7 linked regions of the Homo sapiens genome follow. The protein of the gene in region 1 purifies or fractionates together with the protein of each later gene. This does not show direct contact. Each region holds a gene or a part of one and is shown in the gene's direction. Other genes may lie near its edges. The genes, in order: SVIL, WDR47, MYO1G, DSTN, MYH2, MYCBP2 and PAXIP1.

Region 1 (4,656 bases):
CAGTGCACATGTCATGCTTGGAAAATCAGCCACCAGTAAGAGAGGGTGTGCCCACGCCCTTCATCCTGGGGCTCAGGGCGGGTTATCAACCTCCACTGGGCTTTTAAAGTGTGGTTTTCACAGAATCCTGAAATGCATGTCAGGAAAGGACTTACAGTGAGCCGACTAGCAAGAGTGAGAGGCATTTTGCCACCTGGAGTAAGAGTCAGACTGACAATTTGAGGAGGAGAAAAAGGTAGGAGGAAAAGGCAGTAGAACAGTTTTGATTTTTATTTCCTTTTATTTTATTTTTTAGAGACAGGGTCTTACTCTGTCATCCAGGCTGGAGTGCAGTGGCGCAGTCATGGCTCACTGCAGCCTCTAACTCTTGGGCTCAAGCGATCCTCTCTCCTTAGCTTCCTGAGTAGTGGAGACTACATGCATGCAGCACCATGCCTCGCTAATTTTTTTTTTCTTTTTGTAGAGATAGGGTCTCATCATGTGGCCCAGGCTGGTCTTCAACCTCCGGGCTCAAGCAGTCCTTCCTCCTCAGCCTCCCAAAGCACTGGGATTACAGGCATGAGCCACCACTCCCGGTGGCAGTTTTGCTTTTTAAGGCCCATTTCTCTGTAAGAGAGCCATGAGCTCACCTCACTGCTAAGCAATCGCGTGCAGGGCAGGAACGCCACTGACCTGTCTGCAGTGAGATGTGCGCTCCAGTGTTGATTGTGCTCTTTGGAGATATGCGGTGCTAACAGCCCCTTGAGTGGCACATGCATTATCCCTTCCACTCTTAGCACAGCCCTGCCAGTATCCAGAAGGGCCAGGGCCTTGAGCTGGGGCAAAGGGAGGAGGACCTGGAGGACGAGGAATGAAAAAGACCAACTCCTTGACACCACTTCTCTCTGCCTACAGGCTTCTCCCCGTTGAACTGTCAAAGGGCTGGGGTATCCTGGGTTTCTCTGTTTGCCCCTTTGCCCCTGGTTTGATGGCCAAGGGGGTTTCCCCCTGTGACACTGCAGTCAAGAGGGACAACATCCACTAGGTTGGGGGAGGAGTGAGCTAGAAGTGTCCGTGAAGGAGCTCCTGATGGTCTGGCCCTGTCCCTGCCCTCACAGCACTTTTCCTTGTTGACAATCACCACGAGGTGTACCTCTGGCAAGGCTGGTGGCCCATCGAGAACAAGATCACTGGTTCCGCCCGCATCCGCTGGGCCTCCGACCGGAAGAGTGCGATGGAGACTGTGCTCCAGTACTGCAAAGGTGAGGCTCCCTCTAACATGCCTGCAGCACGGAACAGATGGGGAAGCCCCTCAGGCATGCGCAGCCAGGAGACCCCCTTCCCCTTCTGTGCATGTCAGCCAGCATCCATCCATAAAGCCTGGCAGGTGGTGATGAAACCAATTTTTTCCCCTTTAACTTTTTGAGATGTATTAAGTTTTAGATTAGCGCATTCTCAGCTGCCAGCATGAAGAAGAACTAGTTTTTCTCTCTGATATTATGAGGCTAACTTGTTACCCTCAAGGATAAAGGCTGTATTGTGGAATGCCCCAGGCAGATTAAAACCCCGCTGTACTCGGGGTTGATCATGCTGAGAGACAAGTTGGCCTCTGCCCTGTACATTATCTGCAAGCACTACCACGCTGTTGGAGAATGGAGGTCTCCCCCAAACAGTGAACGGCCATTGCCAACCTTTTTATTATTCATTATTATTTTTAGTATTATATCCAAAGAGAAATACCCATAGTAAGTTCATGGTTCTTTACTATACACATGAAATTTCTAGTCTTTTATATAAAATGAAAATGCCAGTAATTAATCTTATTTAATTTTTATGGTTTCATTGACACAACTAGTTTAATGTCACTGAGTATGTGCAATGGATTCTCTTCCTGAAAAACTCTTTAGCAATAAATAACATATGAAACCTTCCACTCAATGTTATAGTGAATGTGGATGTATAAGATGCTGTCGTTCGCCGTCAGTCATTATGGGAGTTAATCCTGTGCTAGGAAATGAGACGGATGACTCTACAGGTGAATTCAGGAGGAAGAAAATGCTCCACCCAGAAGCTGCAGACAGAGCCTCTCTCTCCCTTCCAGGAATACACAGCGTTTTGTTAGGTTCAAGAAGTATAGACTCAGGTTGATTATAGGTCACTATGGTAGTCACAGGCATGAAACTAACAAACATCTTATATAAACATTATCCATGTGTTGTTATGAACTACTGGTAACTTGCATTTTAAGCATGAAGTCATGAGTTCTGGCAAAGAAGAAAAGATTTCAAGGGAAATCAGAGAAAGACAGGGTCTCCCTGGGGTCTACTGACATTGCAATCTGTGTAACTACAGGAAAAAATCTCAAGAAACCAGCCCCCAAGTCTTACCTTATCCACGCTGGTCTGGAGCCCCTGACATTCACCAATATGTTTCCCAGCTGGGAGCACAGAGAGGACATCGCTGAGATCACAGAGATGGTGAGCACGCTTTCCTGCCCTATGAAGGTGGCTCCTGCGCCTTTTGGATTGTGGGTTAACTTTACTTTGGGGAGAGCATCCAATTGCACTTTCAGAGTGGGAAAATATTTTTCCTTTTGCAACATCTTAACAAACCTACATAGAATTTGCTTAGGAAGAAGAGAAGTCTAATGGAAAATCAATTAACTATTTTAGTAATTTTCTACACGATACCCAAATTTTAAAAACTTAAAAGCAAAGGTGAGTTGAATCATGTTGAGGACTATATATGTACATAAAAGCTGCGAACTCTTCATTCTGTTTGCTAAGAACCTGTTGCTTGGCATTGCTTGTCTCTCAGTGTCCATGTGACGCACAACCAAACCCTCATGTTTCAGATGTTAACCTTGTGTAGAGGAGACACAAACGAAATCTGATGAATTAGTATGTTCAGAAAACTGAATGAATGGAGGTGCTGCGACTCCCTTATGATAAGGGATCACTCAACATCTCATTAATATTGTCTTTTATGAGACCACCTGGTATTTCTGCATGAGGCATTTATCATAACTTCTATCCACCAAAATATATTATAATCTAGAATGTTTTCTTTTCCAACCACACAGGAAAGAATTTTATTATAGCTATGTTGAATTTCTTATATATGAGCTATTAACATTGCTAGGAATAGCAAATCCAAGGATTTGTTTTGATTTGGTGAGAGATAGGTTTTTTACCATTTTGATTTTTTTTTACCATGTGAGAGCTGCTTTGCTTGGGGAAACGACCCAAGTGTATTTTATAGGAAATTCGAGTAATTTTAAACAAACAGAATCTACTTCTGCTTAGCAATGGAGAGGGCCTGTTGGGTAGTACAGACATCACTGCTCACCCTAACCTGTCTCCCTGGAGCCAAATGGACTTGATGTACACAGGGAAGGGGCTGACTTCAGCTTGGTGTCTGCCGCAGCCGGAACGAGATGTTTCTGTTCACTGCAACTGTGGTTTCGTGAAACCAGAAGGCTCTAGGGATTACGAGCTCTATGGCTGCTGCATGCAGTCTAAGTTCAGGAGTTACCAAATTGCCAGGGGTTCAGTCCAGGGCTTATTGCTCACTACACAGAAGAAAGCCAATCACTGAGACAAGCATAGCCAAGGAAGAAAGTTTATTTGGGTGCTACAGCCAAGGGGAACAGGACATAAGTCTCAAATCTGTGTCTCTGGCCTACTAAAATTAGGGATTTTTATAGCAGGGAAGAAATGTAACCATGTGTGGGAAACAGGAATTAGGGAGGGGTGAGGAAGAGGAGCTGGTCAACAGGAAGCGGGGGGTTGGTTAGGCATCATGGTGGGTAAGGGGTCTGGTAAGCTTCAGGTTTTGTTTTTGTTTTTTGAGACAGGGTCTTGCTCTGTTGCCCAGGCTGGAGTGCAGTGGTGTAATCACAGCTCACTGCAGCCTCCAGCTCCAGGCTCAGACAATCCTCCCACATCAGCCTCCCAGGTAGCTGGGACTACAAGCACACACCATAATGCCTGGCTAATTTGTTTTGTATTTTCAATGAGGTTTTGCCATGTCTCTCAGTCTGGTCTTGAACTCCTGAGCTCAAGCCATCTGCCCACCTCAGCCTCTCAAAGTGCTGGGATTACAAGCATGAGCCACTGCTGGCTTTTTGATACTATTGGAGATGCCTGATGGTTGGTTTCCTGAGAAAGGAACTCAGATAAGACAAATATAACTTTCTCGAATTTCAAGACTAGGAGAGTTAATTTCGACGTTTATTCCAAAGAAATCATAAACATCAGTTCTGTGGCACAGTTGAGCCACTTTCAGAAGGATATAACTCACCATCCTCCCTGTGTATTCACTATAGATCTTGGGGGTTAGCAGCGGGGCCATTTACTGTTGTGCAGGCCTGTGGGATTCCAGCCGGAGAAGAGTCAGGCTTCCCACACCAGCAAGTTATACAAATAATTAACATTCAGCAAGTGCCCACTCTGCACTAGGCACATCTCCAAGCACTTTACACTGATTTTCTCATTTATCACAACAGTCCATCAAGATATCTTATTATTATTCCCATTTTACTGGTGTGGGAGCAGAGACACAAAAACACGAAGTCACTTGGCCAAAGTGACTTTCAGTGAGTGGAGGAGTCAGTACTCAGACGCAGGCAAGATCATCCAAAATTCGCCTCTTCTTTTTTTAGAGAAAGGATCTTGC
Region 2 (4,351 bases), on another chromosome or scaffold:
CGCTTAAGATATTTTTTAAAATCAACATTTATTTATAGTGACTCATTCTGAGATAAATGATGGATTTGTGTACTGTTATTAGCTTCTACATTAAAAAATCATTAGCATACAATCTTTGTAATTAGGTCTTAGTATCTAGTTTTAGTTTTAAACATTCATCAAGCAAATATTTATTGTATATCAATTAGGGACTGACAGATGAGAATAAGACAGTTAATTCCCTCCCTGATGGAGCTTATATTTTAGAGGTCAATAAAAAGTAAACCAATAAACAATGTAATTTTAGGTATTTGTGCTGTTTAAAAAATTAGTATGGTAGGGAGATAGTGACTAGGGTGAATAGGGGAAGGCTATTTATTTATTTATTTTGAGACAGAGTCTTGTTCTGTTGCCCAGGCTGGAGTGCAGTGGTGCATCTTGGCTCACTGCAGGGGGAAGGCTATTTTAAATAGGATAATTGGAGTAGGTCTCTCCAAGGAAATGCCATTTGCATAGAGACCAGAATGATGAGGAGGAACAAGCCAGGCCAGGATATTAGGAGAAGAGCACAGCAAGTATAAAGATGCTGAAGTAGGAACCAGCTTAGCACGTTCATGACACTACAGGAAGCCAATGTGCCTGGAACTTAGTGAACTAAGAGAGAGAGACACAGAAGAATAAATCAGAGGCAGGGTTTTATAGACTTTTTTTTTTTTTTTTTCTGAGACAGAGTCTCGCTCTGTCGCCCAGGCTGGAGCGCAGTGGTGCAATGTCGGCTCACTGCAAGCTCCACCTCCCAGTTCATGCCATTCTCCTGCCTCAGCCTCCCAAGTAGCTGGAACTACAGGCGCCCGCCACCACACCTGGCTAATTTTTTGTATTTTTAGTAGAGACAGAGTTTCACCATGTTAGCCTTGATCTTGATGGTCTTGATCTCCTGACCTCGTGATCTGCCTGCCTTGGCCTCCCAAAGTGCTGGGATTACAGGCGTGAGCCACCGCGCCCGGCCTATAGACATTTTTTTTAAGGGCTTTATTTTTAATAGCAGTTATAGGTTAACAGCAAAATTGAGAGATACGGAGATTTCCCATATACTCCTGACTCACACATGCATAGCCTGCCTCCCCCATTATCAGTATCCCCTTCCACAGTGGTACATTTATTATAGTTGGTGGGCTATAAGCATTTTAAAAAGTATAATGTGAAGCCTTTGGAAGATTTTAACTGGAAGGGATAGGAGCTGAATTATATTTTTGGAGAATTTGGGGTTCTGTAGGGAGAGTAGATTGTAAGGGGGCAAGAGTAGAAATATAAATGTCAGTGAGGAGGCTGTTGGAATAGTTCAGGTGAGATGATGGTGGCTTGGACTAGGGTGGTGGAGGTGGAGGTAGTAAGAAATGACTAAATTTGAGATATATTTTGTTTGGATCAGCTTTGAGGAGTGAGGGGAAAAGGAATCAATGACGATTCCTAGGTTTTTGTCATGAGCAACCAGATGGTGCCATTGAGATAAGGGAGGCAGGTAAGGGGAGGAACAGGTTTAGGCAAGAAAACCAAGAGTTTGGTTTTAGACAAGTTTAAATTAGGATGACTATCAGACAAGTGAGATATTGAATGACTATTTGGATACTAGTCTGGAGCTCAGATGAGAACCAAGATTGGAGATAAAATATGTATGAATTGTAAATATATAAATGGCCATGTTGCTAGATGAAATTTTTTAGGAAGTTAGGTACAGAGAGAACAGAAGAAATCTGAGGGTTGACTCCTGGGATTCACCAAGCTTTACGTCAAGAAGAAAAGGGAAACTAGCAAAAGATGAAGTGGCACTGAAATCAGGGAGAAATCAAGTTGAGAGAATTTCCGAGAGAGAGAGAGAGGCAACTTGTCAAATGTTGCTGTATGGGTATATGTTAGCAAATACTAATAGCATAATTAGGTAGGTAGTAATTTATCCCTGTATAAACCTTTCAATGTATTATATTAATGTAGTTTAAGATTTTTTATACTGTAATGTCTTAAAGTAACAGGAAGTCTATACAATCTATACATATACTTATTTTGCATTGTAAATCAACATCTCTTTTGTAATTTAGGGGACCTCACCAAGCAGCTTCCTATCATGGTGGTGGGGGAGCACAAGGACAAAGTGATTCAGTGCAGATGGCACACCCAGGATCTTTCCTTCCTGTCATCCTCTGCAGATAGAACTGTCACCCTCTGGACTTACAATGGGTAGAGCACACCGCATGTCAGTCTATGCAGCAAAAGCACAGAGACTTAAGACTACTGAGTTGTGAAAATTACAAATCTGAAGAACATAGTGTCCAGGAAAGTGGTTTAGCACGAAGAGGCCCCTTATTACCATGTATCCCACTGATAGGAGGTGTTGGGTGGTGTTATTCCGCAGTGCTTTCAGTCTTCCATGTGAGCTCGTGCTGCTGTGACCTGCTATATGTAGTCTCGTTGCCAAAGTCTGCAGAAGAGCTCTTCAGTTGTTGGTGTGCACTCCAAGTCAGGATGGACAATGTGTTTACGGTTTAGTATTCAATGCATTCCTTGGTCTTTGCCTAAATAACAGTTTTATATGCACATTGAAATGGAATTATACTTCAACTATATTATTAAATGTAATGCAACCAAGTTCCTCCCAGATTAAACTTCCCAGGTGTTCAGAATTACTTTTGCTCTTCTCACGATCCCATATTGTATTATCACTTGTCTTCTAGAGGTCAGAATTCCATAATATATGTCACTCAAAAGTTACATGGTTGCTTTCACTTAAGGATCATTGTGGAGTTTAAAGATGAATGAAAAACTGCTTCTTAGTTTACTACATGGTATAGGCCCTTTTTTCTTAAACCCAGGGATATGATTATTTTGTCATATAATTTTGTTTCAGGCTAAAAGGTAAATGTGTTTGCTTCAGAAACTTGTTAACTTCAGTTTTTTGAATGCAACAGGATACCTCCCTTCCAAACTGAACTGTAGAAGCAGAGCAGCAGCAGTTATGTGATGCAACACTTGATGGTACAGTAAATTTACTGGCATTTTTCTCCTTAAAAATTAAAATCCTTGACATAGACCATAGCATGGCTTGAAATGCTATGTCTGCATGATAATTTAAAATGGAAGATTTAAACTTTGCACTCCAAAAGCTTATTTGGATTTTTTTCTTGCACTGTTTTGTGTAATGCAGAATAATGATTTTATTTCTACAGCTTTGTAGATTCTAACATTTATGTATCTTTATTTTCATATTGTACAGTAATTTTACTTTAAATTATTTAAATAGGCTATTTTATTTATTTCAAATGCAGTTGTATTAGTTCTCATTATTGAACTGTCTGTGCACTGTATGTAGCAAGCATTTTTCATCTGTTGTATACAAGTGGAAAGGGTATTAGAAGTGTAACTGTGCTATTATTTCAATAAAGACCTCTTGACATTTAAAACTGTTTCTGTTCCTCAGTCTTTGGCTTTCAAAATAATGTTATTTTTTCAGTTTACTGGGAGAAAGTGAGGTCCAGTGGATGAAGTCCATAATCAGTTTCTTAGATTTCTTTCTAAAGTTCTTCTACTAATTTGCTTTTTAATCCTTGGCAACTGTATAACTTATTAACAAAAAAATAATTTTTCTAAAAATGGGGTCTTGCTTTGTCCAGGTTGGTCTTGAACTCTTGGCCTCAAGTGATTCTCCTGAGTCAACCTCCTGAAGTGTTGGGATTATGGGCGTGAGCCATTGTGCCTGGCCTGTATAACTTTTGTGTGTCTTCTGTCTCTTTTATCCAAGATTTAGAGAACTTTCTATCCTTAATATGTTGTGAAAGTTGACTAATAAAAGCCTAACAATATGTATAAATTTGAACTCAAGAGTATGAATATGTCGAATTAGGTAATCACCCAACAGGTTCACCATGCCCTCTGCCTAGATAGAGCCAATTTATTCAAGACAAGGGAATTGCAATAGAGAAAGAGTTATTCATGCAGAGCCAGCTGTGCAGAAGACTGGAGTTTTATCACTCAAATCACTCTCCCTGAGCATTCCAGGATCAGAGTTTTTAAGGATAATTTGGTGGGTGGGGTTCACTCCTAGTAAATTGGGAGTGCTGATGGGTTGGGTTGGAGATGAAATCATAGGGAGTCAAATCTGTCTTGAGTCAGTTCCTGGGTGGGGGCCACAAGATGAGCCAGTTTACTGATATGGCAGATGTCAGCTGATCCATCAAGTGCAGGGTCTGGGAAATATCTCAATCTCTGATCTTAGGTTTTACAATAATGATGTTATCCCCAGGAGCAATATGGGGAGGGTCAGAATCTTGTAGCCTCCAGCTCTATGACTCCTAAACTGTAATTTCTAATCTTGTGGCTA
Region 3 (4,656 bases), on another chromosome or scaffold:
GTCTCCATGGACTCTGAGCTCCCTGCTGAGGTGGGAGTTCATGTGGCACCAGTTGTGTCTCCACAGACGCTGAGCTCCCTAGGACATGGGCTCTCCCTGGGTGGAGAGCAATGTCTCCACGGAACCTGTGCTCCCTACTGAGGTGGGAGCTTCCTGGGACAGGGGCAGGGTCTCCAGTAACTCTGAGCTCCCACTGAAGTGGAGCTCCCTAGGATTCTGCAGTTTGTCCACAAACTCTTACCTCCTCACTCAGTGGGAGGTTTTGGGACCCGGGTAGTGTCTCCACATACTCTGAGCTACCCACTGAGGTGGGATCCCCCTGGGTCGAGGGCAATGTCTCCACAGGGACTGAGCTCCCTACCAAGATGAGGTCTGGCACAAGAACAGTGACTTCATGGTGGAGTCATAGCTCCCACTGAAGTGGAGCTCCCTGACCCACTGAACAGCTGAATGGGGAGCTTGCTGGCACACAGAAACTGTTCACACTGTCTGACCTTCCCCCACGTTTGTTCGTTCAATACTGGAAGGAAGCGCAAGTCTGTTTGTTCTCCTGCCTGTGTGTGTGTACAGGGGGACATCCTGGGAGCTTATTTGTCTAAAGGATGCCTGTGTCCTCTAGTTGCTGAGAGGCAGTGAGGACAAGCAGCTGCATGAACTGCACTTGGAGAGAAACCCTGCTGTATACAATTTCACACACCAGGGAGCAGGACTCAACATGACTGTGCACAGTGTGAGTGTGAGGGGCACCAAGGGCTCAAACTGGGCTCAGTGTCAGGGCCTGAGTGTGGTGGTAGGGAATGGGCAGCACTCAGCACAGGCCAGGGTGAAGTGAACTGTTTGCGTGAGTGGGGAGGGTGCTCGGGGTGGAGTGAAAATGGCTGATGGAGGGGACAGAGTGCAGGGGTGAGCAGGTGCTTAGGCTGGAGTAATCAGGTTCAGGAAGGGGACAGGGGACAGGGGTGAGCAGGTGCCTAGGATGGAGGAATCAAGCCTCAAGGGAGACAGGTGTCCTGGGCCCAGTGTGGCTTTGGAGTGATGAATCCCTTCTACCCTAGGCCTTGGACAGTGATGAGCAGAGCCACCAGGCAGTGACCGAGGCCATGAGGGTCATCGGCTTCAGTCCTGAAGAGGTGGAGTCTGTGCATCGCATCCTGGCTGCCATATTGCACCTGGTGAGCCTGGCTCAGAAGCCTGGGAGGGCTACTTCCCCACAAGGGTTTCCTGGCTGGGAAGCACCCAGGGATGAGGAGGAGACTGGCTGGAGATGCCCCAGCAATGTGCTAGGCTGACTGCCTCTCCTGCAGAAGCTGAGCTGCTCGAGTGATGAGCTCAGTTGATACATGGTCCAGACCCCATTCTTAGGGCCAGGTCAGCCAGGCGCAGTAAAAGCTGAGCATCATGCAGACTGCCTCTTAGTGCAGTCATGAGCTGTGTGGCTTTGGTTGCATTTACTCAGTGCCTCTTGGCCTCAGTTCTCTCTAAGCGGCATGAGGAGTAAGTAGTGCAGGGCTCCGCTGGCTGTGGGAGGATGCGATGGGGTCATTCACATGTCATTTGGACTCGAGGCCTCGAGGCCTTGGCAGAGACTCTGGTGTGCCCATGCCCCCTTCCCCCAGTCTCTGGCTGTGTCTGTGCCCATGGTGAGCAGCTGACCATGCTGGTCTGAGAAGGAGCTGTACTCTACCGCATCCATGTCCCCTGCTTTCCTTCCTCCTTCTTGTCCAAAGTTGTCCAGGCTCTTTTGAGACATGGAGCCCGGACTGTTCATGGTTTTCCCATCACCAGGGAAACATCGAGTTTGTGGAGACGGAGGAGGGTGGGCTGCAGAAGGAGGGCCTGGCAGTGGCCGAGGAGGCACTGGTGGACCATGTGGCTGAGCTGACGGCCACACCCCGGGACCTCGTGCTCCGCTCCCTGCTGGCTCGCACAGTTGCCTCGGGAGGCAGGGAACTCATAGAGAAGGGCCACACTGCAGCTGAGGCCAGCTATGCCCGGGATGCCTGTGCCAAGGTACTTTGGGGGCAGGCACAGGGAGGGAAGCCCAGGAGGCCTTCATGGGGGAGGCCAGGCCAGAGGCAGCAGGAAGCAGGGTGTTCCTATCCCCCAGGCAGTGTACCAGCGGCTGTTTGAGTGGGTGGTGAACAGGATCAACAGTGTCATGGAACCCCGGGGCCGGGATCCTCGGCGTGATGGCAAGGACACAGTCATTGGCGTGCTGGACATCTATGGCTTCGAGGTGTTTCCCGTCAACAGGTGGGTGGCTGGCCAGCCACATCTCCACCTCTGACACCCAGCAGCTTTGCCCACTTAGTTCTGGAAAGCTCGGCTGGGGCTGGGCAGCAGGAATGTTGGGGTTTCTCCCGGCTGGTCCCTGGGCCCAAGGCTCATGCCTCCCAAACCTGCCTCACCTGCACCCTCTGACCATTGATGTCCTGATGGAAGGCAGAATTACGGGGCATGAGTAATTCCTGGTTGTGACTCCCAAGTCCACTCCAGAACGTGCATGCAGGAGGTGTGGGTGGGGTAAAGGAGTCCAGGGCAGGGATGCATAAGCCACAGGGAAGCCACACAGGGTGCTGGCACCAGAACCCTCAATGAACATTAGCAGAGATGTTCAGGGGAGCAGCCACCCATTACCATGCACTCCACAAGCAGCGACCTCCCCTCTGAAAGGCCCACCCCACCCCCAGTTTCGAGCAGTTCTGCATCAACTACTGCAACGAGAAGCTGCAGCAGCTATTCATCCAGCTCATCCTGAAGCAGGAACAGGAAGAGTACGAGCGCGAGGGCATCACCTGGCAGAGCGTGAGCACTGTGGCCTGGAGGGAGGCCAGGCAGTGGGGTGTGGAGGGGCCTCAGCCCATGGGGAGGGGCCCGGGCTGGCCTGACAGGTGGCTGAGTGTGGGGCGGAGGAGGGGAGGTGGCCTGAAAGACCTTGGGAGCTTCCTTGCTGGCTGCCTTTGCCCCAGGTTGAGTATTTCAACAACGCCACCATTGTGGATCTGGTGGAGCGGCCCCACCGTGGCATCCTGGCCGTGCTGGACGAGGCCTGCAGCTCTGCTGGCACCATCACTGACCGAATCTTCCTGCAGACCCTGGACATGCACCACCGCCATCACCTACACTACACCAGCCGCCAGGTGCCCCCGGCTGTCCCAGTGCCACCACAGTGGGCTGGTGGGACCTGCCCCACAGGCACCATGCTGCCCATGCCTCGTGGGGCCTGGTTGGGGACCCAGCTTTGGTGCCATTGTCGTCACTGTGGCAACCTTCTCTGCCCTGGAGGTGGGGAGGCAGGGCTATCCCTTCATACAGACCCTCCACATACCTTTTGTGCCTTGACCTCAGCCTGTCCCCATAGCTCTGCCCCACAGACAAGACCATGGAGTTTGGCCGAGACTTCCGGATCAAGCACTATGCAGGGGACGTCACGTAAGGGCCCCCTCCCACCCACATCCCTGGCTTTCCCACAGGCACCATGGCATGTGTCATGGGGCAGGAGCGCTTCAGGGGAGTGGCTCGGAGACAGGTGTTATGGCCACTTCTGCCACCCCCACCCCTTTAAGACACTGAAACATGCCGGACAGCAGATTCACAAGTGAAGAGCAGGAAACAGGGTTTGAGGATAGTGGTTAACCATGGCTGCATTCTTCTGGGAGCCTTTAAAAAATACCCACGTCTCATGTCTGGGCCCAACCCTATACCAGCATCTGTGGGGTGGGGGGCTTCAGGCTGGTGATGTGGGGGTGGGGAGGGAGTGGAAGGTGCAGGGGGGCCAAGATTCTGCATTTCTAACAAGCTCCCAGGTGAGGCCTCGCTACCATACTTGGACCACGCTCCCAGTGCCAAAGCCCAGGTGTCTTCAGGGGTTGTCATGATGGCTATTAACTTATGTGTTGCTTGCCGCATCCCAAAACGATTTAAGGTGACTCACATCAAGGTATAAGTGTTTCATGAGAACTTCTCAAGGAGAGGGAATAGAATAGATGATGACAACAAAGCAGCCCAATATCATCTACCTTTATCTGTTCGCAAAATCTACACCCATGAGGTCGCTCATGCCTGTAACCCCAGCACTTTGGGAGGCCAAAGTGGGTGGATCACCTGAGGCCAAGAGTTCGAGACCAGCCTGGCCAACATGGCAAAACCTCATCTGTACTAAAAATATAAAAATTATCCGGGCACGATGACGCGTGCCTGTAATGCCAGTTGCTCGGGAGGCTGAGGCACAAGAACTGCTTGAACCTGGGAGGTAGAGGTTGTGGCGAACTGAGATCGCACCACTGCACTCCAGCCTGGGCAAGAGAGTGAGACTATTTCTCAAAAAAAAAAAAAAAAAATCCATTCCCTGAGCCTTCATAGGTGCTGCAGTTGGAGCCAAGATTTGGCACTGACCTTTCTAGCAGTCCAAGAACTAGACAGTGATTCTGAGGCTCTCAGTGCCCACAGATCAAAATAGGCCCAGGACTCAGGAGTTCCTAGTCATAGTTGTAGTCGCTGATGTTTATCAAAATTCAGTAGGCACTGTTCTGAGCAACTGATGTACACTGAAGCACAGAGAGGTTGAGTGGCTTAGGCAAAGTCACACAGCATGCATGTGGTAGAAGCAGGACTCGGTGCTAGGACATTTGGCTTCAGAGCTGGGGGCTTAACCAC
Region 4 (4,656 bases), on another chromosome or scaffold:
TGAAACCAGCTGGGCGCTTCAGGATGAGATTAGATGTTTTCAGATGTCTCCTCCAACAAAAAACAAACAACGTCTGCCTCCACGTGAACCACAATTACAGACCCCAAACAAAACGTGTGTGTGTGTGTACTGGGTGTGCCAGCCTCCTTATACAGAGATTGTTTAGTAGCCCATCATCAAGTTACTAAGGTTATTTGCTCAGTAGTTCTACTGGATATGGATTGAGACATCACACCTAGACTTGCCTAGCTCCTCTTGTAACCAGAGTATCTTTTATGCTTCTTGGAAAGTAAGAGTGTAGTCTTGCCCCTGAAGTAGAGTTAAAAGGTTTGCACGATAATCTAACCCTTAACCTTATCCTAATCTGGACTGTGGTCTCACAGACTGAACTAATTGGCGCAGTATTCAAGTATTCTAATACTTGGTGATTAGCAAAAACACTACAACCCAGTGAAATAGGTTGGGCATGTATTCACATGCCTATTTAACATATGAGAAAACAGATTGTAAAGGATTAATTGACTTGAGACAAATCACCTTTTCCAACTCCAAGTTTTAAAATAATAATTTTGAAACATTTTAAGCAGAAAAGTACACAGAATAACAGATCCTTTTGTACAGGAAAAACAGGGCTATCTTATTGCCATATTTCAGGTTTTTATGTTATCATTACAGCTAAATATGCATCATCTTCCTCATCCCACTCCCTTCCCTCCCTAGAGTTATAACCATTCCTGTGTCAAAGACATAATATCCTGGCTGGTTAAGGAGATGATTTTATTCAGGCTATTGCAATTAGGAGAGCATTCCTGATTGCCTTATTTGAAAATATGCAACAGGCCAGTTCTTTGCAGTTACCTGTTTCCCAGAACACAAAACGGTGGGGTGGATTAACCATCACTGCTTTCTGAGAACACAGAGCTCAGGTAAAGTTCACAGTAGTCACCTGAAATTGATATTCATTGATAGTTCCATACTTTTAGCTACTTAATCATTCATATGTATTGCCTTGATGTGCTTTTAAAACTTACGTAAATACTGTGCTTCATGTATCCTTTTGCAGCTCTGTGAGAAAAAATTAAACTTTGTGGGGGTGGTTTTTTTTTTCCCAGGGGAGGGCAGCTTTTGGATTTATTTGTAGCTTTGGTTCTTCAACTGCTGAATTGTGTTCTTTTGTATGATTGTGCAAGTTTATCCATTCCCCTGTTGATAGACATTCAGCCATTTCCTAATTTTTTGCCTTTTTTTGGTCTATTTAAAGTTTTTATAATAGGCAATTTCCATGTCATATATTGCTATATATTACTTCTCTAGCCCCAGTGTGTATCTCTCCATGGTGTATATCTAGAAGCGGAAGCCCTGGATTGGAGCATACATATTTTCTACTCTACTACTGGTTCGTTCTGGTTGTATCTCATCATTAACAGCTTGTTTCTACATTGCCTTTCACCACTTAATAAGAGACTTGAAACCTTTGCCAGTCTGATGGTTGTGAAATGGTTTCTCATTATTTTATTTTGCATTTCTTTGATTACTAGTGAGCTGACTCTTTTCATATGTTTATTGCATCTTAGGTTTTTACACGCATGCTGCATCCTGCAAACCTGGCCATTCTGTAAATACTTACCATCTTCACCTAAGCTTATTTGCAGAGCCATAAAGTAAATGTAGCAGTAAAAAAAAAAAAAAAAAAATCAGCTGGATACAGTGGCCTATACCTGTCATCCCAGCACGTTGGGAGGTTGAGGCAGGAGGATTGCTTGAAGCCAGGAGTTGGAGACCAGCCTGGACAATATAGTGAGACCTTGTCTGAACAAAAAAATTAAATAAAAATTAACTGGGCATGCTGGCATGTGCCTATACTCCTAGCTATTTGGGGGACTGAGGTGGGAGTATTGCTTGAGCCTGGGTGTTAGAGGCTTCTGTGAGCTATGATTGTACTACTGCACTCCAGCCTGGCCACAGCGGGAGACCCTGTCTCAAAAAACAAGAACATGATTATCAATACCAGAACCTCATACTGAGGAGTAATATTTCTCTTTTCTGGCACATAAATTTCTTTCCAGGCCCCTTAGCCAGCTAATTACCAGAAGTTCAATACTCTCTGTTAATTCTATCCACCTGCCATTTTTAGGCCCCTGGTAGTGGTAGAATGTAGAGTGACTTAGGACAGAGTTCTTTCCTTCTTTGCCAAGGGCTGTGGAGATTAATGTCCTTCACTTTACACTTACCCCTCTCTTTCCTGGCAGTTCTTCTAGCCAAAATGTAAAAGCACACACAGTAGATATATGGGAACAATGCACTTCTGCTAAAATTTGCTGTGTACCTAAAACTTCTCTAAAAAATTAAAAGTCTATAGCTGGGCGTGGTGGCACGTGCCTGTAATCCCAGCTACTCAGGAGGCTGAGGCAGGAGAATCGCTTAAACCCAGGAGGCGGAGGTTGTAGTGAGCTAAGATCGCACCATTGCACTCCAGCCTGGGTGACAGAGCGAGACTCAGTCTCAAAAAAAAAAAAAAAAAAAAAATTAAAAGTCTAAAAAACAAACATGCAAAACAAGTAAACATGACTGACTTTCTTTTCTTTCTCCTTTCCTTTCCTTTTTTTCCTTTCTTTTTTCTTTCTTTTCTTTTTCTTTTCTTTTCTTTTGTTTTTTTTTTTTTTTTTTTTTTGAGACAGACTCTCTTGCAGCCACCCAGGCTGGAGCTCAACTGCAGCCTTGATCTCCTGGGCTCAAATGATCCTCCCACCTCAGCCTGCGGAGTAGCTGGGACTACAGATGTGCACCACCACACCCAGCTAACTTTTTAAAATTTTTTGTAGAAATGAGATTTTGCTACATTGCCCAGACTGGTCTCAAACAATCTTCCCGCTTTGGCCTCCCAAAGTGTTGGGATTACAGGCATGAGCCATTGTGCCTAGTGACTATTTTTCATAAATAGAATTTGTTTAAATCAAAATTGTGTTTAACTTAGTATACAGGAAGACTTCAAATTTTTGAGTTTTTATGTTAATGTAACTTTATATTTTCTTTCAGTAATATTTGAGATGAAGCACACTACATTTGAAATTTGAAAAAAAACTTGCAAGTCTTGAAAAACTGAATTTAACATACAAATGCGTTGATTTTGTCCACAGAACAACACTCTAGTCTCTGAGTAACTAGAGCTAGTCTCTTTGTTGTACTGTCATTTGCATATGTAAACCACAGAGCATAATAAATAAGTAGAATATTGTGAAAGCATTTTTTTTTTTTTTTGGAGACAGGGTCTCATTCTGTTAACCTAGGCTGGAGTGCAGGGGCGTGAACACAACTCACTGCATCGTCCACCCTCAGGCTCAGTCAGTCCTCTACCTCAGCCTCCTGAGTAGCTGGGACTATATATAGGCAGGCACAACCACTCCCAGCTAAGCTTTGTATTTTAAAAGCTTTACATATATAAAGATGGGATTTATAAATATAAATTTATATATAAAGACGGGGTTTATAAAGATGGGGTTTCACCATGTTTGCACAGGCTGGTCTTGAACTCCTGGGCTCAAGTGATCCACCCACTTTGGCCTCTCAAAGTGCTGGGATTACAGGCATGAGCCACTGCGCCCAGCCGTGAAAGTATCTTGAGTTTACTTCTCTTGTGGCATAACATTTCTGTCTAGATTGTCCATGAAAGTCATACACAAAGATTTACACCTAACACTTCAGCAATATTGTAACCACAACTTTTCTTCTGTTCATGCCTCCTTTCATTGATGTTGGAAGTGAGAAGTTTTCACTTGGAATTGTGCTTCTGAATTACCTCCTGCTCATTTTTCTTGAAATTTTACAATTGGGAGAGGCATAGACTTAGACAAATAAACATCGGTTTTATTCATCTCAGTAATACTTTGGGCCAAAATGTTATATTCATCATTGAATCTGCTGTACTAAGACCCCCATTGAGTTGAATATTTAGAGTGATTCTTAGCTCCAAGATTAGTCTTCTAGAAGCTGATACTGTAATACTTACATGCTGCCAACACTATTCCATGTTTTGCTTTGTTATGTTTTACGTAGATTTTTTGTTTGGAGGTTCTAGCAGGGGAGCGCAGCTGCTCATATAACCTTGACCAAAGACCGGTTCTCCTCTATCAGGAATGGTCATCCTCTTTGACCGAGTGCATAGCTTTGAGAGGGATGCACATGGAGTGGTGAGGGAGGAAGGGGACACCTGCCTAGCCAGCCAGATCAGCCGAATCAACCCTGGTGATCAATGGGGTGACAGATGTTGCAGCCAGATCGCCCTCACATCATACGTAGATTTTTTAAAAGCAATTGATTTCAGTAAAAAATGCAATTAAAGTTTTAAAATTAACAAAGTAATCTCTAATTGAAGGTGTGAAAAGACTGAGAACGTCTGTTGCAGCACGGCATAGATGAGTGCTTGAAAGATAGAAACTTAAGTTCATTCTACACCTGGAAGGTCATTTGTCATTGTGTTTGTGCTTTTGGATCACATCAAAGGAAGATTGTTTACTCCTTTGAACATTTTTACATTACTTCATAGGTTGTTATTTCTGTTTGCCTTCTCACAGGAAAGCAAGGATGAATTTCCTACCCTTGTTTCTATCTTGGCTTGCTTTCAGAAAATAGCTTGTAAATGTAATTAGTGTTTATTTT
Region 5 (3,662 bases), on another chromosome or scaffold:
AAGAAGAAGCTGGAGACAGATATTTCCCAAATGCAAGGAGAGATGGAGGACATTCTCCAGGAAGCCCGCAATGCAGAAGAAAAGGCCAAGAAGGCCATCACTGATGTGAGTGGCAGGCACACTTGTCCACTGATTTAGCAGTAAGATTTCCTGACATCTATAACTTTCTTGGTTTTCTTGATTTATTTGCTATTTAGGCCGCCATGATGGCTGAGGAGCTGAAGAAGGAGCAGGACACCAGCGCCCACCTGGAGCGGATGAAGAAGAACATGGAGCAGACCGTGAAGGATCTGCAGCTCCGTCTGGATGAGGCTGAGCAGCTGGCCCTGAAGGGTGGGAAGAAGCAGATCCAGAAACTGGAGGCCAGGGTGGGTCTCCCAATATCTGTCTATTTCCATCTGCTTTCAGTGCCTTATTGGATCAAAGTTCTTAAGAGCCTACTTATTTGCAGGTACGGGAGCTGGAAGGAGAGGTTGAGAGTGAGCAAAAGCGTAATGCTGAGGCTGTCAAAGGTCTGCGCAAACATGAGAGGCGAGTGAAGGAACTCACTTACCAGGTACAGCCAGTAGTTTTTAGCGGCTAAGCACTGGTCGAAGTTTATGTGAAATACTCATATGCAATGATGCAATAGTCATGTGCTTTAGTAATTAAGGTCCTGGACTTTTTATAATCTTTCAGACGGAAGAAGATAGAAAGAATATTCTCAGGCTTCAAGATTTGGTAGATAAACTTCAGGCAAAAGTGAAATCTTATAAGAGACAAGCTGAGGAGGCTGTAAGTATTTTTAAGATTGAAGTCCTCAAATTAAGCTAATAAATAATTACTACTTCTTGTAGTGAACAAGCTGTTTGCTTTAAAGACTACTGCATGCATATTTAACATTTGTTTTTGTACAATAATTCTTGTGTATCATTTGTAATATCAGTAGCTTCATTTTAAAAGTAAACTTTCAATCCACCAAGAATCCTGAAAAAAATTAAAAGCAGAAATAATACAGGCCATATTCTCCGGCCACAGTATGACGGAGTTGTAAAGTGATGACAAAATATAAGCAAAAATTCTTGAGTACTTAAATATTAAAAAAACTAACTTTCTTAAATAACTCTTGGTTTAAAGTAAAAATAAAAACATAATTACTAAATAATTATTAATTATAAGTAAAATCACAAGGAAGATGCTACTTTTACAAACCTACAGAATGTAGTCAAAGCTGTGCTAGGAGGCTAATTCATTGCTTTAAATGCTTTCATTATGAACCAAAAGTAAAAATAAACAAACAGACAGTCCAATAAATAAATTATAAATAATAATAAAACAGTAGAAGTAAGAAGTACTGTTAAAAATAAAAGTAGAAATTGGTGAATTAGAGTATACTATTTTCTATTTGATAACTTCAGTAATATTTGTAACTTCTGGGGAATTAATAAAATAAATGTATTATAACTAGTTTCATCAAGGAAAATAAGAGAGAAAATATAAACAACATTAGAAATGAGAAAGGGAATAAGCTATATACATAGAGGATTATTTTTTAATATAAAACACATCTATCAATAAAGTTGAAACCCTGAAAAAAATTGATGATTTTTCTAGGAGGATATAAATTACTAAGTTGGCTGAATTACTTCTGGAAATGGACCCAAGTCCAGATAGGTCTTTCAAAATTTCAAGGAACAGATAATCCCCCAGCTATGTAGCTGTTCAAGAGCATGGGAAAAGATAGAAAGCTGTCCAGTTCATTTTAAGAAGCTCACATAACCCTCATACCAAAACCTGCCCAAGAGAGGACAGAGGGAGAAAAACTAAAGGCAATTTTACTCATAAAGACAGTTACAGCAAAGATAAATTACTAAGTAGTAAGTCTTACTTTATTAAAGGAATTGTCTTCCAGTGATTAAATAAGGTTAATTCTTACAATGTAAAGATTACCTAATATTAGGTTATCTGTCAATAGAATCATTACATCCAATGCAGGAGGAAAAAAGTAACCATTTTGAAATGTGCCAAAATGATACATGACAAAATCCAATATTTATTTCAATTTTTAAAAACTTAATAAGTTCATTCTTAATATGATAAAAAAAATCTAACTCAAGGGAAAATCATCATCTTATAGCAAGCATTAACAACTATGACTTTAATATTCTTGCCTTCCTCTCTAAGCTTATATTTTTCTTCTTATTCTACTTGTGGTACATATATTTTATGTGTTTTGGTTGCCAAAATAGGAATGTGAGATACGTATGTATGTATGTGTGTGTGTATATATATATATATATATATGACATCAATAAACAAATCTTAAAATTAATTTCAATGATAATCCCTAGATGTTGCTTCTCCATAGATGCCAAGTCCTTTCTTCTATTAGGTCTAAAGAGTCTAGAAAGATGCAAGTATGAGTTCCTTACAATTCCATTTTTATTCTCAGGAGGAACAATCCAACACCAATCTAGCTAAATTCCGCAAGCTCCAGCATGAGCTGGAGGAGGCCGAGGAACGGGCTGACATTGCTGAGTCCCAGGTGAACAAACTGCGGGTGAAGAGCCGGGAGGTTCACACAAAAGTCATAAGTGAAGAGTGATCATGTCCTGATGCCATGGAATGACTGAAGACAGGCACAAAATGTGACATCTTTGGTCATTTCCCTCTGTAATTATTGTGTATTCTACCCTGTTGCAAAGGAAATAAAGCATAGGGTAGTTTGCAAACAATATCCTTAGACTGGTCTTGTCTTTTCTCTTTCCTGAAGCCATGTCAAAGTTTGAATAGTCACCAGAGTTGTCAAACAATCACATTCAATTGGTGACTTTTTTGGGGGTCTACGGCAACACTTTAAGGCTGTAAAGATGTCACTTATCCAGAAAGACTGTTCTAATGAACAGAAATTTGGAAGTCTATTTTATTTCTTTCTAACCTTTCCTGATATCTGAGTACAGTAAAATCTTAGAAAGCTCCTGCTTCCCCTAACATGAACCTTTTTCAGGATAGTACTAGCTATATTCTCACATAGGGGATTCAAACTGAATTGTATCATTAATTCTCTTTGTTGAATAACTGTTATCAAGAATATAAATACAAAATATTCTTAATTAGCCCATGGATATTTACATTATCAATTCCAATGTACCATATGCCCACAGTAGGTGCACTGGGTAATGGGTTTGACACGACCTTGTTCTTCACGAAGCAAGTTTCAAAATTAAATTAAATATGACTCTTCTCCCTATGAAAACTACAGGGTGTCTATCAAATCTGGAGACATAGAGAATATTATTTTTACGTTATAATGTAGTATCCATGAGCTATTAGCTTATGTTTCCAATCTTTATGGTCTCCCAGATAATCATATAAAGAGCCAAAATAAATGACTAAAAGTGTCAAGAAAATATGATCTCAAAGTAGGTTATTCAAATCTATATTCAACACACATAATGATGGGTATGAGTTTGGTACAAAAAGTAGATATCATAGCAATCTGGACCACTCAGAGACGTTTTCCTAGAGGATCAAGATTTTTAAACTGGATGCAGCTGAGATGCATAGCCAAAAATATAACCTTCCTCGACAGAATAAAGGAAGAGCTAAATGGTAACTTCCCATCAAATAGAAAGCAAGAGTATCTTGGTCTAAATGGCACTGTGTGAAAATGATGTAAATTA
Region 6 (4,656 bases), on another chromosome or scaffold:
TTTTGGTAACTCAAGGGGATTTCAAAGTTGAGGGAAGGATATTCAAGTATAGGAGGTTGGGTGGGATATGCAAATATGGGAGGCTAAATGGAGAGACAGAGTGAAGAAGTGAGAGAGGGGATAATTGATAGGAAAAGGTCAAAGGGATCTCAGGGACAGGAAGAGGTCAAAGGGATCTCAGGGATAGAGTTAAGGTGACAGGTGGAGAGGTTAGCCATTGAAAAAAGGAGCAGTTAATATAGAAGGGGTGGAGGTGAGTACTTGTAAATATAAAGACTGGGAGTTTATTGAGGATAGGCATCATATCCTATTCGTTTTGATAATCCCAATGTCTAGCACATTTTTTGGCATGAATTCTGTAAACATCAAGTGCCTGCTCTGTGCCAGGCAGTATTGCAGATGCTGAAGATGTAGCGGTGAGCAAGATAGACAAAGTCTCTGCCGTCTTGGAAAATCCACTCCAATGGGAGAAATAGACAACTCATAATTTCACTTAGTAATAAGTAACTGTGAAGGCAATAAAACCTATTTCATGTGATAGGGCAATTTGTAGTGGGGCTATTTTAGGTAACATGGTCAGGAAATGTCTCTTTGAGAGTTGGCATTTAAATTGAATTGCCATGATGAGGAGGCAGATGTAGAGGAAGAATGTTCTGGGAATTTATAAAGGCCTTGAAATGGGAACAGGCTTGTGTTCAAGAAACAAAAACATGATGAGTGAGTTATCAGTCAATGTCAAATGAATTAATTACTCTTTGCTTTAGGTGTACAGTTGAGAAGTTGAGAGTTTCAAACCTAATGGACTCAGTGACTTTGATGACAGTCTAACAAAGTGGTTAAGAGCTTGGGCACAGAAGCTAGACTGGTTTTGCATCCTGGTTTTGTCATTTGCTAGCTGTGTAACTTTGAGTATATTACATAACTTCTATGCCTCAGTTTTTTAAATATGTAGAATGGGGATCATAATACTAACATGAATTGTTTTGTAGATTAAATGAATCAATGTATGTGCTTGGCATGTTGACTGCTATGAAATATTAGTTACTGTTTTTTGTCTGTTTGTTTTTGCTGAGAATGAGGGGTGTGGGGACTTGAAGAGAAGGCAAGGATCATGTCTTACTCTTTTATTTTTGGTCTCAGTGACTGTGTAGAATGTGGGAATAACTCTTTCATTTATCCAGTGACTGAATAGATATATTTTTGGATGAATGAGGCCAATCAAAATCGGAACATTCTGTTGGGGAAAGGGGTTGGACAGGAAATGTATGAAGGAATGTATGATCTGTTCTGAATGTGAATGGTGGTATAACCATGCACTTGGGAGGCACCATAGCACAGTGGCTAAATGTTAGAGCACTGGAGGTAGACTCCCTTAGTTCACGTCTACCTTTTTCTACTTGTGTTAAATTGGGCAAGTTAATTAGACTTTGTCTGTTTCTTTACTTGTAACTTTGTAGTGTTATCAAAAGGACATTATGTCCGCACCTGGTAAGTGCCCATGAAATGTTACCTGTTGTTATTATTAAAATCACATTTAAAATTCCAACCAGCATGGCACTGTATGTTTTTCCACACAAAATAGAAATGGAGAAAACCTAGTTGAGTTGATTTAGGGTTAAAGAAAAAAGAAATGGAAGGTTTTGGGGACAGTGTTTGACTATATGGTAAAAAGGAAAGTGATGCCAAGAGGGAACTGATAGACTGGAAGATAAAGAGGAGTCAGAGTATCTGGGTCCTGAAGTCCTAGAAGAACAATGTTAGTGAAAACAATAGAGGGGATTGTGACCAAAATGGGGAATCTAAACTTAACCCCCTTAGTTTTTTCAGCTGCTTTATCTCTTTCTTGTTAGAAATGGTATTTGAGTCCATCCTTCAGATGCATGGGATTTTGGTTGTAAGAGGTTAAGTAGTCATTTTAGCAAAAGTTCAGGGATTATTTTATTTTACTTATTTTGAGGCAGGCTGGAGTGCAATGGTGTGAACATAGCTCACTGCAGCCTCAACCTCTTGGGCTCAAGTGATCTTCCTGCCTCAGTCTCCTCCAGTAGCTGGGACTACAGGCATGCACCACCATGCCTGGCTTGTTTTTTATTTTTTGTAGACACAGGGTCTCACCATGTTGTCCAGGCTGGTCTTGAACTCCTGAGCTTAAGTGATCCTCCCACCTCCACCTCCCAAAGTGCTGGGATTATGGGTGTGAGCCACCATGCTCAGCTTGCTCAGGGATTATTACTTGGCACTAACCATTGGCCCTATAAAAATTTATAAGACACAAATTCTAGACTTGAGTTTACTGTCTATCTGGAAGTGCAAGATACAAAGGCAGATACTTATAGAAGTGTTAAATGAAATGACCAAGAAAGTATAACCTACTATGACAAAGGCATGGCATTCTAGGCTGGCTTAAAAGCATCAGCAGAGACAGGAAAGCACAGTTTGTATGTAGGTAACAGTAGGAATTCTGTTAGAGCTAGAATGCAGGTGTCATGAAGGACAGTAGTGGAATTCATTCTGGAAATGGAGGCTTTGGCTAGGATGGGGCATCTTGAAGACCAAGGTAAGAATTAGATTTTATTCAGTAGACACTGATCACCCTTGATGGTTTTAAGCTATGAAGAGACGTTATTTATTGTAGGAATATGTCAGGAAGTAATGCGGGATTGAATCTGTATGTGTACATCTGTATTTGTGCATAGGTAGTAATTTTCTTCATGTAGCTGTTATATCAGTGGAATCCTGTATAGTGTATAAACACAAGTTAAGGCAAAAACTGCTCTATTGGTATACTGGTAGGTAGAAATGTGAAATGAATTAGTTTCCTAACTCAAGAGAAGAAAAAAATCTTGCCTCTGGGCTTAAAAGGAAAATAAAAATGTCAATCTAAAAATACTTTTGTCCTTTAATATATTTGTTTAAAAAATCAACAGAATAGTCTCACTTTTTTCTCAAAAACCAGATTAAACATTTAGGTTTTCTGAGGAGGGGTTAGGTTAATTGAGGTTTAATTTATATACAATAAAATTCATCCTCTTTAAATGTTCATTTGAAGAGTCCTGAAACTATCACCACAGTCAAGTATAGACTGTTTCCATCACTTCATATAAAAAGTTCTGTCAGGCCCTCCTACCCCTGGTTACTGACCGCTGCAAATCAGTTTTCTGTCACTAATATTTTACCTTTTCTAGAATGTCATATAAATCTAGCTCCTTAAGGGCAGGGCCCCCAGGTATTGTTCATCTTTCTGTCTTGTATCTGTATTTCCTGTAAGTGGAAGCTAGACCTTAAGGGTTTATTAGGTGTTCATTAGAAAATTTTTTAGCAAGAATATTGTATATGGCGCTGGGTACTGCATGTTGCATCCCATCCAGAGGTTGTGAGGTTGTCTCACTATTTAATATGTTAAATCTGATTACTTGGGTAAGACGGTACCTACTAGATTTCATCTCTGTAAATGTATGCTTTTTCCATTTGTAAAGAACAAGTAATCACAGGGTAAAAATTTGAGCACATTGTGAATGCCTTTTACCTAATGCTTTTAGCATTCTTTGATAATCCTTGTCTGAGTCAATAATTTCATTAGGGGTTGCAAAATGATGAATTAAAAAATAATTCTGTTATTTCTTCTATGTTTATTAGCTGGTACTCTTCTGCAAAGAAGAGTTGGCCTTCACTGACTGTCAGTGAAATGTAGTTTCTCCTAATCCAGCAGCATAAATGCTTAATTCTCTTCCCTCATTAGCCAAATTGGTGTAATAGTCCAGTGGTGGTGTGGCAGGTGCTGTGGTTAGGCTTTCAGATCCCGCTTTCAGGCACATGTTCCCCTAGCTCTTGGCAATATTGGCAGCTAAAACTGATTGCAGCTGAGTCCCACTCCACGCATTGCCCTGAGCCAAGAGTTGCCTCCCCCAGAGTCATGCCTCCTCTTCAGGGGCAGTTTACATCTAATATCTATACAGTGTAGGGATATAAATGCCTAGCGCTTTTGCTATAAGACAAGCCAACCTTGAAGTCTATCCCAACACCAGAGAGCTCTCCCATGGGTCTGGCTGAGGGCTTCCTGGGACTGCATTGCAGATCAACTCCTTCCTCTGTTCAGTCTTACGTCTTTCACTGCCCCACAGTTGTTGGTTCGGAGGGCACTCCGCAATAAACTTCCGGTGTGCACATCTGCATTTGAGAGTCTGTTTCCTGGGAACCCTCCTACCCAAAGCAGTTGGTGCCAGGAGTGGTCTCAGAAAGTAGACTTTACAGTGAGGTTTTGAAGCTGGATTATTGGCTGGCTGGCTGGCAATGAGAATCGATTCTGGTGCTAGATGGAGCACTAATACTGATAACGCTTGGCATGCACTGTAGCTATGCAACTTAAAACTTTCACTGGTGGTGAGTTGGAATGCTATTCCTGTTGAAGGGAATGCACTGGTGAGTGCACTAGGCTTTTGAGAAGTTCAGAGAAATTAATTATGAGGACAATCATCAGATGGCTTTTGGTAAATAACATTGATAGATTGGAGAAAGATGATGCAAGGTGGAAGATAATTGGGGGCAAAATGTAAAAGGAAATTTATTTAGCATCATGTAAAGAAACACATATACAGTAAGAGGAAAAATCTAAGGCTTCAACCCAAAACTTAATTTTAAGGGTAGCAGAGCACCAAG
Region 7 (4,656 bases), on another chromosome or scaffold:
CAGTTTCCAATAAAATTCAATTAAAAAAAAAACTGACTAACTTGTAAATTTTTGAATAAGCTAGAAATAATTCCTTTTATTTTTATTTTTATTTTTCTGGAAAATTAAGTACATACCTCCAGATATTTTTTAATATGACTGATGGTACGTTACCAGAATGTTTGTAGGGTAATTCCTCGACTATGCAGCATTGTCTTGATCATTCTAGGACTTAGCATTCCCTCAACCATTTCCTTCCAGCCAGCTTTTGTGACAAATACAATAGGCTCTCACAAATTTCCAAAATTTCGGGGAGTGGTAACAGCTCTTCTTTAGTGTCACTGCGTTAGTTTCAGCCAAGATCACAGGATCAGAAATTGACAGTTGGACTTCATGCTCATGTCTGTCTGTTGTCTTTAAGGCAATAGTGTTTCATTCCTGTTGGATCCTGGTAGGCCATGCACCCTTCTATGGCGTGGTGTTCCCTGCCTCACCTCGCCTCTTCCCTGGTTCTTTCTAACTCACCCCTTGAAGGCTGAGAAGCACCAGTCTATAAAATGAACTGAAGGAACCATATATTCTGGCATAGTCTATTTATAAAACCAAAATGGTTATATTAATTATATTAATTATTATTTACATTATAATTAACATAATATAATTATGTTCTTGATTCACGATTATGTTATGTTTGTGGCTTATGTAACTCAATAACCACAAATATTTGAAAAATTAAATCCCTTTAAAAAGACTTAATTTTTATCATTCCTTTAAATTATTGTATTTTATAATCTATTCAGACATAAATTTGTAAACCTAATAGTGGTGAATTTAAATAGTTTCTTCTAATTTGTAAGTTTTATGAGTGCTAGAGACCAGCTGACTGTACACAAAAATAACATTTCTTTTTAAAGTAAATGTTTTTGTTTTCTTTAATGAGCACATAGCAAAAGCTTGTGCAAATGGCCTAATAAAACTACCTTTTATACTCTTGAAGTTTAAAAGTTTCAAATTAAGAAGAATGAAAGAATTTATAACTTAAAACCAACAGAAACGGGGTATGGTTATTAGTTGTTGGGGAGAGGGGACATGGTTGACCCTTGAGGTCCTTAGCCCTTAGTGAGTTAGAAGTTTTGAGGATACAAAATTTAGAATAATTTAGCTGATAAATTGGGTCAGGCAAAGGCATCTAAACATTGCTTTCCTCTTAAATCATCTTTGTTTAAACAGTTACTGTCTTTCAGTGATTAAAAACTACCTATCTTGTGAAAAGCGAGAGAAAACTTGAGTGAAATATAGTAAGGCTGTTTACCTAAGTGTTTTACTTAGATTTCCACAGGAAATAGTCAAGTTATTTCTGAAATGTGAAATGCCAGCATTCTATACAAACTAGGAACTCAAGAGCCTACTGGATCCCAGCCTTTTAAGTGTGAAATTATCTTTTTCATATCCAAAATTTTCAGTGACTCCTCTTCATGGCAGTAGTTTTGTTTTGTTTTTTGGTATTTGTTAAAACAATTAAAAATAACTTTTTTTCATATTTTACTATTTCAACAGATATCTTTTTAACTTGGAAAAATCATATGTAAACCATATTACATATAGTCATATGTTATTCAAGCAGATGATATTTTTGTATTAATTGGTTCATAAATATTCTGCTGTGTACCTGGACTTCATATTTTCCTAAAATAACTTGGGTTTTTCTGGAATGGGTAGTCCAGAAATTGAAAATCTCTAGTAGAAATTTATCATCTGGGGAGAGCTATATAACATTTTATGCTTTTAAATATTTAAGAACAGCATGATTTTTTAGGGTAAAGAATAAGACATTTTATTGTCGAGGGTATAGGTAAATTGATGTACTCTTACATAGCTGTTGGAAGTGTAATTGGAATAGCCTTTTTGGGAAGGGAAGTGTAGTTAGAGATATGAAGCCTTAAATCTATTCCTTTTCAAACCTCAACACCAAAACCTAGGAATTTGTCATAAAATATAACTGCAGTTTTTCATAGTAGTGAAACACTGGAAACAACCACGTGGCTAACACTGGGGGATGAACTAAGGTACACAGCTGTGCAACCGAAGAGGAAACTGTAAAAGCCTTTGAGACTACTGGGGAGATCTGAATAGGGCCTGAGGATGAGGTGAATCATAGTTCATTGTGCTGCTATGATAATTATGGTGGTTTAGAAAGTCTTTATCAATTTGAGATCCGTAAACAAAGTTCAGGAGAAGCAAGATTTGTAAAAGATTGCCAGTTATTAAAGCTGGGTGACAGATACAAGGGATTTATTCCACTAGTCTCTAATTTGGTCTGCGTTCGAAAATGTACATTAAAAAGTTTGGTCTGCGTTCGAAAATGTACATTAAAAAGTTTGGTCTGTGTTCGAAAATGTACATTAAAAAGTTAAAAACAAAAGCATAAAAGTATACATGTTTTCATAGGAAGAGGTTGTTCACAATATATTAAGTGAAAAAGGAACATTATAAAGTATTTGTTCACTATGACTATATGTTTTTTCCCTTTGCCCTTTTAATATATGTACATATATATTTATAACAAAAATAAATTTAAACTATACCCTAAAAATGTTAATCGTGGTCCTTTCTAGTCAGTGTGATTATGATTACATTCATTTTCCTTTGCTTAGCTTCTTATTCATGGGTGTCTCCCATGACTAGGTTTTTCTTATATTTTAAAAAGGTTTGAGAAAGAACAAACTCACAAACACAAGTTAAGTCACTGAGCTGTGTGCAGAGCTCACTATTTGCAAGGATCTCCCAGATGGGCAATGCCTGGCGTTCGCTGCCAGGACCGAATGACCAACAGCTGTCCTCTCTGTGCTGCTGCCCCGCATCCCTATTGCGTGTGACTCTTATTCCACCCAGAAATTGCAAATGCCACCTTGGGGCTCTGCAACAGGACACGGAGTTTAGTTTAGGGCCCTGATTATGTGTTTGCTAGAGAATTGCTGTTATGTGTTAAGCTTTTAGGAGCACAGCCAAATTTACAACTCATTTATTTTAAGGTTACTTTATTGTCATATTACTCTTATTTAACATTTTTTATTTATTTCCTCTTTCTTTGTTATTCCCTCCCCTGTGCCTTCCACATTCTACACCCTTTACCACAGGAGAGGTCTCTGTTAGCTTGCCGAACATACTACTCCGGACACATCTTTTCCAGTGGGCTGTATTTTCTGCTTTCATTCTAACTGTGCAAATTGTCATCATTTGTGCCCCAGCCAAAGCTCACCTTTCAACGGGGCTTTCCTCCTGCCCTCCAGCTTATGTTGATGAGATTCCCTTCCAGTCTGTTACTGCATCATTCAGCAGTGGTTTTATATTGTATTTGCATTCCGTATTTAATATCTCTTTAGAACCAAATTGTGAGCCTTGTTAGGTCAGAGACTTGTTGCATCCTTTGTGTCTCCATCCCTTAGTGCTGCTTGGCATATAGCATGAGCTCCATAAATACTGGATCTTGAATAGAGCTGTCCTATGCAAGTCAGCCAAGTCAGCCATGCTCCATGAGTGTACGTGATGCATTGGCGGCACTCTGCCACGCTGTTACTTTACTAACTGTCATGGAAAACCAAGCTTCTAAATATTATCAATCAGTAAAAACTTAGGTAGCAATTATTCATTTCATAATTTTCCATAGGATTACTAGCTCTACTTTTGTACTTAAAATATCATTTTAAAAAGTTAATTTTCAGCCAAGTCTTTTAAGACTCCTGCTACAGGTGTGAGACCTTCCTATGATCACTGCTGTATGGTTCCTTTTCACTTTTGCCTCATGTCCTCTGTCTAAAAGATCAAACGTTGCTTCTGTATAAAATTGTAATAATAGTTGCTCAACATTTCAACTGCATTCCTTGACTGAGTTTTTTCTAAAATGCGTAATTGTAGGAAATGTGATAAAATTTACAGCTTTGTTTTGTGTGTGTTTCTGCTTTCCTCGTAGGAGAAATACGAATGTGCTTTAAAGCGAGCAAGTATTAAAATTGTGACTCCTGACTGGGTTCTGGATTGCGTATCAGAGAAAACCAAAAAGGACGAAGCATTTTATCATCCTCGTCTGATTATTTATGAAGAGGAAGAAGAGGAAGAGGAAGAGGAGGAGGAAGTAGAAAATGAGGAACAAGATTCTCAGAATGAGGGTAGTACAGATGAGAAGTCAAGCCCTGCCAGCTCTCAAGAAGGGTCTCCTTCAGGTGACCAGCAGTTTTCACCTAAATCCAACACTGAAAAATCTAAAGGGGAATTAATGTTTGATGATTCTTCAGATTCATCACCGGAAAAACAGGAGAGAAATTTAAACTGGACCCCGGCCGAAGTCCCACAGTTAGCTGCAGCAAAACGCAGGCTGCCTCAGGGAAAGGAGCCTGGGTTGATTAACTTGTGTGCCAATGTCCCACCCGTCCCAGGTAACATTTTGCCCCCTGAGGTCCGGGGTAATTTAATGGCTGCTGGACAAAACCTCCAAAGTTCTGAAAGATCAGAAATGATAGCTACCTGGAGTCCAGCTGTACGGACACTGAGGAATATTACTAATAATGCTGACATTCAGCAGATGAACCGGCCATCAAATGTAGCACATGTAAGTCACTCTTTCCGAAAAAAATGTCAGTATTGGATCTTAGAATTGGATTTCACAGTCTATTTCAATGT

Evidence for each region.
Region 2: the proteins of SVIL (region 1) and WDR47 purify together in Homo sapiens (affinity purification with mass spectrometry; one large-scale study listed by BioGRID and IntAct). This does not show direct contact.
Region 3: the proteins of SVIL (region 1) and MYO1G purify together in Homo sapiens (affinity purification with mass spectrometry, with the first as the bait; one study listed by BioGRID). This does not show direct contact.
Region 4: the proteins of SVIL (region 1) and DSTN purify together in Homo sapiens (affinity purification with mass spectrometry; one large-scale study listed by BioGRID and IntAct). This does not show direct contact.
Region 5: the proteins of SVIL (region 1) and MYH2 purify together in Homo sapiens (affinity purification with mass spectrometry, with the first as the bait; one study listed by BioGRID). This does not show direct contact.
Region 6: the proteins of SVIL (region 1) and MYCBP2 purify together in Homo sapiens (affinity purification with mass spectrometry; one large-scale study listed by BioGRID and IntAct). This does not show direct contact.
Region 7: the proteins of SVIL (region 1) and PAXIP1 purify together in Homo sapiens (affinity purification with mass spectrometry; one large-scale study listed by BioGRID and IntAct). This does not show direct contact.

The regions. Positions count from the first base shown.
Region 1 is NC_000010.11:29,460,077-29,464,732, reverse strand, and holds part of SVIL (supervillin), read left to right. Parts: intron 1-1,097; coding exon 1,098-1,241; intron 1,242-2,331; coding exon 2,332-2,456; intron 2,457-4,656.
Region 2 is NC_000001.11:108,969,297-108,973,647, reverse strand, and holds the end of WDR47 (WD repeat-containing protein 47), read left to right. Parts: intron 1-2,075; coding exon 2,076-2,218; 3' UTR 2,219-3,434; downstream 3,435-4,351.
Region 3 is NC_000007.14:44,968,189-44,972,844, reverse strand, and holds part of MYO1G (unconventional myosin-Ig), read left to right. Parts: intron 1-619; coding exon 620-730; intron 731-1,055; coding exon 1,056-1,172; intron 1,173-1,785; coding exon 1,786-2,010; intron 2,011-2,107; coding exon 2,108-2,253; intron 2,254-2,690; coding exon 2,691-2,805; intron 2,806-2,969; coding exon 2,970-3,140; intron 3,141-3,361; coding exon 3,362-3,432; intron 3,433-4,656. UniProt on the Homo sapiens protein: Unconventional myosin required during immune response for detection of rare antigen-presenting cells by regulating T-cell migration. Unconventional myosins are actin-based motor molecules with ATPase activity and serve in intracellular movements.
Region 4 is NC_000020.11:17,572,222-17,576,877, forward strand, and holds part of DSTN (destrin), read left to right. Parts: intron 1-4,656. UniProt on the Homo sapiens protein: Actin-depolymerizing protein. Severs actin filaments (F-actin) and binds to actin monomers (G-actin). Acts in a pH-independent manner.
Region 5 is NC_000017.11:10,520,202-10,523,863, reverse strand, and holds the end of MYH2 (myosin-2), read left to right. Parts: coding exon 1-105; intron 106-197; coding exon 198-368; intron 369-451; coding exon 452-556; intron 557-678; coding exon 679-774; intron 775-2,431; coding exon 2,432-2,584; 3' UTR 2,585-2,716; downstream 2,717-3,662. UniProt on the Homo sapiens protein: Myosins are actin-based motor molecules with ATPase activity essential for muscle contraction.
Region 6 is NC_000013.11:77,319,439-77,324,094, reverse strand, and holds part of MYCBP2 (E3 ubiquitin-protein ligase MYCBP2), read left to right. Parts: intron 1-4,656. UniProt on the Homo sapiens protein: Atypical E3 ubiquitin-protein ligase which specifically mediates ubiquitination of threonine and serine residues on target proteins, instead of ubiquitinating lysine residues.
Region 7 is NC_000007.14:154,975,625-154,980,280, reverse strand, and holds part of PAXIP1 (PAX-interacting protein 1), read left to right. Parts: intron 1-3,949; coding exon 3,950-4,585; intron 4,586-4,656.